Homo sapiens: one gene and its partner. The protein of the gene in region 1 purifies or fractionates together with the protein of each later gene. This does not show direct contact. Each region holds a gene or a part of one and is shown in the gene's direction. Other genes may lie near its edges.

Region 1 (4,215 bases):
CTTGGGAGGCTGAGGCAGGAGAATCACTTGAACCCAGGAGGCAGAGGTTGCAGTGAGCCAAGATCACACCACCGCACTGCAGCCTGGTGACAGAGCACGACTGTGTCTCAAAAAAATTAATTAATTAATTAAATAAAAAAGGAAATGGAACTATTTTTGTGAATCTGTGGATTATATCAGAAAAAAAAGACACAATGGGGAAAGTCCTAGGCAAATCAGGATGAGTTAGTCATCCTTCCTAGATGAGTGTTTGGTGCTAAATACATGCTCAGCAGACATGATTATTGCTTCCCCTTTCTTTCGTCCATTTGGCAACAAAAAGGTGGCAAGCACCCACTCTGTGCCCTGTCCTAGGGTCCGGGAACCCTGTAAGCAGTAGATGGAGGTGGGGGTGGGGGTGGGGGCGGGGATGCTGTTCAGAGCACCTTGCTCCAAGGGTTCATTAAAAAATCCACCAGTGGACCGGGCGCGGTGGCTCATGCCTTTAATCCCAGCACTTTGGGAGGCCGAGGCGGGCGGATCACAAGGTCAGGAGATCGAGACCATCCTGGCTAACACGGTGAAACCCCGTCTCTACTAAAAATACAAAAAAAATTAGCCGGGCGTGGCAGCGTGCGCCTGTAGCCCCAGCTGCTGGGGAGGCTGAGGCAGGAGAATGGCGTGAACCCGGGAGGCGGGGCTTGCAGGGAGCCGAGATCGCGCCACTGCACTCCAGCCTGGGGGACAGAGCGAGACTCCGTCTCAAAAAATAAAAATAAAAAAAATAGAAAAAACAATCCACCAGCCACGATAAATGGCAGACCTCCTTCTGATTTCAGCCGGTGTGGTATGTTCCTGGGCTGACAGCACTTGTCTAGTCTTGCTTTCCCAAGTGGGAAAGGTCTCTGGGACCTTAAGGTCCCCAGGTGGTGACACAGAGACAGGTAGGGGGGCCCATAGCAAAGCCAGGCAAGGAGGTCCCGAGATGATTGTGGGTGGCAGGGAAAGAAAAAATATTCCTTGACTTTGTGCCTGGACCTGGTTGTAATAAAGGCCCAAGAGGTAGTTCCTATCATCGTGCACATTTCGCTGAAGGAAGAAACTGAGGGTCAGTGACCCAAGTGAAGTGACTTGCCCAAGATCATGCAGGAAGACATGGATAATTGTAATTTGAACCAAGGTCCCAGCAAAGTGGGATTGTTGGGGCTGAGTGGGCCGGCTCCTGCATTTCCTTCCCTCTCCCTGGGCTTGGGTCTCCCACTTGTCCAGACAGCGGCCGGGCTTGTCACGGGGCTCTGTGCAGCCTTTTCCACTCTCCCGGCTGCCAGCGTCCCGCCCCGTCCCCTCCCAGCCCCCAAGGGAGGAGGGGAGAGCTGCAGAGAGGAGGAGGGGTCGGGGAGGCCGGCTTTATAAAGGCGGCTGGAACAACCCTGCCCGCCAGACCCCGTCGCCCGGATCCCCTGAGCTGCCCGCCATCCCACGTGACCGCGCCGCCCCCCAGCTCCACCGCTGAGTGAGTTGGGGCGCGTCCCTATCCCGTTCCCAGTCCCTCGCCGAGCCGCGTGGTGCACTGAAGCCGGCGTGGGGAGGAGAGCCGATGAAGGAGAACGCTAACATGGGGGCTCCAGGCAGAATCTCTAATGGGAGAGATTTAGGACCTGAGGGAGCCGGGAGACCCGGGAGCCCACGGTCTGGTCGGCCACCTCCTCTCCTCCCCGGGCGCGAGGCCTAGGAGACCGCAAGCCACCCTCCAAGAATGCGCGTGCAGTCGTTGCCGTGGCAACGTGCAAGCCTGCATGGGCCCACCGCTAAAGGAAAGGGGAGGTTGTTGGGGGTGTGGGGGCTGGTCCCCTGGAGGTCCAAACTCATCACGCGGCGGTAGCACGAGGGAACTGGGAACGTCCCCTCCCCCGTGTCCCAAATCCTCTGGGAGCCAGAACGCAAGTCGCATCGCCTCTCTGAGCCTCAGTTTCCACATCTGCCATATGGAGGCAAGATTATTGGTTCCAAGTTCCCCGAAGAGTTATCTGGAGGGTAACGATCCAGGCTAGTTCCCACTTATGGTTGGACGTCCAAGGAATGGGTTTAAGCGGCTCAGATAACTCCTGCGACCCCACCCCACCCCCAGGCCCGCTCGCCATGGCCCTCTTCGGGGCCCTCTTCCTAGCGCTGCTGGCAGGCGCACATGCAGAGTTCCCAGGCTGCAAGATCCGCGTCACCTCCAAGGCGCTGGAGCTGGGTAAGGCGCAGGGGCAGACAGGGACGGACGGGAGCGGACGGGGTTGGGGTCGCCCCAACAGTGGGCACGGGAGCTAAGTAAGGGTTTCTCTGCTGCTTCAGTGAAGCAGGAGGGGCTGCGCTTTCTGGAGCAAGAGCTGGAGACTATCACCATTCCGGACCTGCGGGGCAAAGAAGGCCACTTCTACTACAACATCTCTGAGTAAGTGGGGGGCGGGGCCTCGCGATCCGGGGCGGGGCCTCGGCGGTGGAGGCGGGGCCCGAGAAATCTCAGGGTCTCGGGAGACTGGAGGCTGAGTGGGATGGGGCGTGGCCAAATCGATGAGGCAAGACTTAAGAAACCGGATGGGGCCGAAAAGATAAAGGCCAAGCCAGTCATCATAGGCGGGACCAGGCAGATGGGCGTGGCCTTGAAAATGTAGAGGGGGCCAAGAAGGAAGCAGGACCAGTGGATGTGAGGCGTGGTCGAAGAACAACAGAAAGGTGGAGTCAAGGAACTTCCCAATAGATGAGAGTGGAGTCTCGGGCACGGGGTGGAGTTAATCGGAGGGGTGGAGAAACTGAAGGCTCTAAGTATGGTTTAGGATGAGGGAGGGGGAATAAGGAATTGAGATGTGAGACGGAGCTTAGGTGATGGAGGCAAAGTGAACGGACTCTATTAAAAGACCGGGTGTAGCAACCCCAGGGTGTGGGAGGGGAGGGGGTGCAAGCAAACAAGACTTTTTTTTTTTTTTTTTCTGAGAGGGAGTCTTGTTCTGTTGCCCAGGCTAGAGTGCAGTGGCGCGATCTTGGCTCACTGCAACCTCCGCATCCCGAGTTCAAGCGATTTTCCTGCCTCAGCCTCCCGAGTAGCTAGGACTACAGGCGCGTGCCACCACGGTCTGCTAAGTTTTGTATTTTTGGTAGAGACGGGTTTCACTATGTTGGCCAGACTGGTCTCGAACTCCTGACCTCAAGTGATCCGCCCTCCTCGGCCTCCTAAAGTGCTGGGATTACAGGCATGAGCCACCACCGCACCTGGCAAACAAACAAACAAGACTTTTAAGCGATGGGGTGAAGCTCATTTTTAACACCTGGATCAGGAAGACCTCCTCTCTCAGCCACCCAAGTTCAACTTTGAGCCACCCAAGTCTAAGTTGGGCACTTGAGGGACAATGGAAGAATTCATTCCACCCACTCCCGCTTCCCCAGGCCTGGACTTGAAAGGGGAGCAGACAAATTTCCTGTCGTTGGGGGAAGTTCCCTCTTCTTGGCCCTGGATCTGACCCTGAGGCCTCCTGTAGGGTGAAGGTCACAGAGCTGCAACTGACATCTTCCGAGCTCGATTTCCAGCCACAGCAGGAGCTGATGCTTCAAATCACCAATGCCTCCTTGGGGCTGCGCTTCCGGAGACAGCTGCTCTACTGGTTCTTGTAAGGACCCAGCACCCTCAGGGGAGTGGAGAGTGGGTCAGGAGGGCTGGAGGTGCTGTGGGGCTGTGGGCAGCCCCCTTAGCCTTCCTGAGTTTCCGTTTCTTCATCTGTGTAACAGAAACAGGCATATGCATTTCATACGAGTTGATAGGAAGGTTTGGTAGGATGTGTGGAAAGAGGTGAAACCTTATTAAGAGGTATGGTGATGCATGGGGGCACTGAAGACTCAATTGAGCTCCTACCTGGAGTGAATATTAACCCCCCTGGCAGCTATGATGGGGGCTACATCAACGCCTCAGCTGAGGGTGTGTCCATCCGCACTGGTCTGGAGCTCTCCCGGGATCCCGCTGGACGGATGAAAGTGTCCAATGTCTCCTGCCAGGCCTCTGTCTCCAGAATGCACGCGGCCTTCGGGGGAACCTTCAAGTAAGCCCCAGCCCCAACCCCAGCTCACCCTTTTCGAGCCCCACAGCTCATCTGCCTAGCGCAATGCAAAGTGCATAGGCCTGGGAATCAGACCAACTGGGTCCAAAGCTCAGCTCTGTCACTTCCTGGCTGTGTGAACGTGGCCAAGTCACTGAAGCTT
Region 2 (3,500 bases), on another chromosome or scaffold:
ATATAATATTTTTCTTGTAATTTTATTCAACTTTTAATTATATCTGGGTGGATCATATTCTCTCTGGAACATTGACTCCAGAATGACACGAGTTATGCTGGAATACAATTTGAGCTAAGCACAGAGATTGAGAGCGTACAAATACATGTCTTTTTGCATTCGCATTTCAGAGCCAGATAGGAATAAATTTTGGTCTTTTTATTTATTTATTTTTTTGAAACAGGGTCTCACTCTGTTGCCCAGGCTAGGGCTCAAGTGATCTCAGCCTCCTGAATGCTTGGGACTACAGGCACGTGCCACCATGCCAGGCTAATTTTTAAAATTTTTTGTAGAGATGGCGTCTTGCTATATTGCTTAGGCTGGTCTTAAACTCCTGGCCTCAAGTAATCCACCTTTGCCTCCCAAAGTGCTGGAATTACAGGCATAAATCACCATGCCTGGCTTGCTCTTTCTTCTTATGAATAGTCTTACCCTGTACATTTTATGTTAGAAAATATCAAAGCTTATAAAAAGTCTTCAAATATTACCTTTGACTGTCCAGCTTTACATTTTTTAACGGCACGTTTTCTGCATCAAGGAATGGTATAGCAAGAATGAAGACATAACTGGGTAATGAGGGTTGGGAAAGAGGAAAAACGTAGGGAAAATAATTTGATGAATAGTTCAGAGCTTAGCAAAGCCTCACAAGCAAATAGATTGACCTTCTGTCTCACTCATAAGATAAACCATCTTGGCCACTTAGAAAGGCCACCTAGCTGAGAAGTGTCATGCTTGGAACAAACTGAGAAGTACATACAATGTGAAATGAACTGCTTTTTCATTTGTATCCAAAGTGATGGGGAGGTCAGTTGATCCTGCATGTATGTGTGTATACATAACAATTAGTCAATTTCTAATTTAAAAATCAAATTTAAGCTCTTAAGACTGAAACAATGCCGGCACAGTGGCTCACGCCTGTAATCCCAGCACTTTGGGAGGCTGAGGTGGGCGGATCACCTGAGGTCAGGAGTTCGAGAGCAGCCTGGCCAATATAGTGAAACCCCGTCTCTACTAAAAATATAAAAATTAGCCAGGTGTGGTGGTGCATGCCTGTAATCCCAGCTACTCGGGAGGCTGATGTGGGAGAATGGCCTGAACCCGGGAGGCAGAGGTTGCAGTGAGCCAAAATTGCGTCACTGCACTTCAGCCTGGGAGACAGAGCAAGACTCTGTCTCAAAGAAAAAAAACAAAGGACTGAAACCAGAGACATTTAAAATTTTTTAATATATGATCTCTAAATTTAGAATTACCCAATAAGGAGCATAGTGATTATTTATTTAAAAATAAACAGCTTCCTGAGGTAATTTTCTTACCAAATGTACACATTCGAATGTAGTATTGGCTGTGGTTTTTTTTTTCATTGATGGTGTAACTCCCTGTGTGAACTCAGTTTACAATTACATTAAAGATTGAATGTACTCTTTTCTTTAGAAGTATAATGGTTTCTTAATTTTTTTTTCAGACTGTACAATTTGTTCAAGGAATTTTTGTAGAAAAATACGATCCTACGATAGAAGATTCTTATAGAAAGGTATATATTACTTTGGAAGGCCTTTTGCTTTTGATTTTAATATAAATACTTATTTTAGCTTTATAATTATTGAATGTTTTATACAAAGGATGGAGGCAGAGTTAATTTATAAAATTAGTGGGAAAAGTTTACACTTTCTGGCATTGCATAGTTACCAGTTTAAGAGGATCATAAACACCCATACTCTCACATATTCACAGAATTTTTTGTAATTTGACACATAAACTTTAAAGCAGACCATCCATTTCAAGTAGTAGCCCCATGTTACTTTCAGTCCCCTACCTAGCAAGACTGATTACTCTCAAGCTCCCTTCTTTTTAACCTAGAAATAGGTGGACACAGGTCTTCCTAAGCTTTCTACTTACTAACCTCTTGAGAAAGTGCCACCACTCACAATACTGGTTGAATATCCCTTATCTGAAATAACTGGGACCAGAAGTATTTCAGATTTCAGATTATTTTCTGATTTTAGAATATTTGTATATACATAATGAAATAGAATGGGACCCACATCTAAACAATTCATGGTTTCATATACACCTCATACACATAATCTTACATAATATTTTTAATATTCTTATGCATGATACAAAGTTTTGGCTGCATTTTGACTGTGACTGGTCACATGAGCTCATGTGTGGAATTTTCCACTTGTAGCGTGATGTTCCACACATGGCTCAAAAACTTTTGGATTTGGAACATTGCAAGTTTTGGATTTTTAGATTAGGGATGCTCAGCCTATAGAAAGGTGAATTCCTGTGTCCACTAACAGCATGTGACAATAAAACAATGTGTAGACATTTTTAACTTAGTAGGGAAAGAGGTATTTCCCAACCTCTATGAAGCAGCCAACCTGGCCCCGCTGTTGCACAAATACTGTGTTTCCATTCCTCCCTCCATGTGCATAGTCTACCAAAAAAAAAACTGGAAACTTTTGCACCCCAGCTGTGAGACAGTATTACTCTTTTCTTTCTACATCTAATTCTAAATACCTATTTTTCCCTAGGAAATATTAGATGGAAAGGGGTAACAGGGATATATGTGTAATTTATTTAATAGCTGTGCCACTGCTTCCTTAATTCCAGAAATCTTGTTCCAGTATGGTGAGGGCATATAGTTACCTAGAGAAATGAGGTATATCTAAAGTATCATGGGAGAATTTAGACAGAATTACTTATGATACTGTTGGAACTGTTGCTGGTTTTGTTTGTTTATTTGAGCTATTTCGAAACTATTTTTTTCTCTAGAATTAAGTGCTGAGAATCCATATTGAGACTGGTTCGTGTAGGTTTCCCTGTGTTGACTTGAGAACACATGGCTTTTGAACTTGATTACAATTTGGGGGTCTTTGAATCTTGATTACTTAGCTATTTTTCCTCCTGCTTTGTTGAAGTATTGCTGGATATTAGTTTGTAAAGTTGTTAAAATCTGTGTGTCTTATTTTTGATACATTAGCTTTTTTGTGTATATTAAGGTAGTTTTATGTACATTGAAAAAATGAACATGTATTTTAATTTTTCTACCAGCAAGTTGAAGTAGATGCACAACAGTGTATGCTTGAAATCTTGGATACTGCAGGAACGGTAGGTAAAACTAAATACCAAAGTATATACACCGTTTGTACAGTATTGACTTCATAAATGCTAGTACTCTATAGACAAATATTAGTTAAGCTTATTTAAAAGTACTGCTTGCAGCCGGTTGTAGTGGCTCACACCTCTATTCCCAGCACTTCGGGAGGTCAAGGTTGCTGGATCACTTGAGGTCAGGAGTTCGAGACCAGCCTGGCCAACATAGTGAAACCCCATCTCTACTAAAAATACAAAAATTAGCCAGGTGTGGTGGTGGGAGCCTGTAATCCCAGCTACTCAGGAGGCTGAGGCAGGAGAATCTCTTGAACCCAGGAGGCAGAGGTTGCAGTGAGCCAAGA

What was found. Proteins that work in one complex are often made in the same cells at the same time.
Region 2: the proteins of PLTP (region 1) and RAP1B purify together in Homo sapiens (affinity purification with mass spectrometry; 2 studies listed by BioGRID and IntAct, with this or other methods). This does not show direct contact.

Annotation. Positions count from the first base shown.
Region 1 is NC_000020.11:45,909,356-45,913,570, reverse strand, and holds the start of PLTP (phospholipid transfer protein isoform a precursor), read left to right. Parts: upstream 1-1,415; 5' UTR 1,416-1,492; intron 1,493-2,107; 5' UTR 2,108-2,118; coding exon 2,119-2,218; intron 2,219-2,319; coding exon 2,320-2,419; intron 2,420-2,576; exon of another isoform or gene 2,577-2,700; intron 2,701-3,500; coding exon 3,501-3,629; intron 3,630-3,899; coding exon 3,900-4,055; intron 4,056-4,215. UniProt on the Homo sapiens protein: Mediates the transfer of phospholipids and free cholesterol from triglyceride-rich lipoproteins (low density lipoproteins or LDL and very low density lipoproteins or VLDL) into high-density lipoproteins (HDL) as well as the exchange of phospholipids between triglyceride-rich lipoproteins themselves.
Region 2 is NC_000012.12:68,648,899-68,652,398, forward strand, and holds part of RAP1B (ras-related protein Rap-1b isoform 1 precursor), read left to right. Parts: intron 1-1,501; coding exon 1,502-1,570; intron 1,571-3,096; coding exon 3,097-3,153; intron 3,154-3,500. UniProt on the Homo sapiens protein: GTP-binding protein that possesses intrinsic GTPase activity. Contributes to the polarizing activity of KRIT1 and CDH5 in the establishment and maintenance of correct endothelial cell polarity and vascular lumen.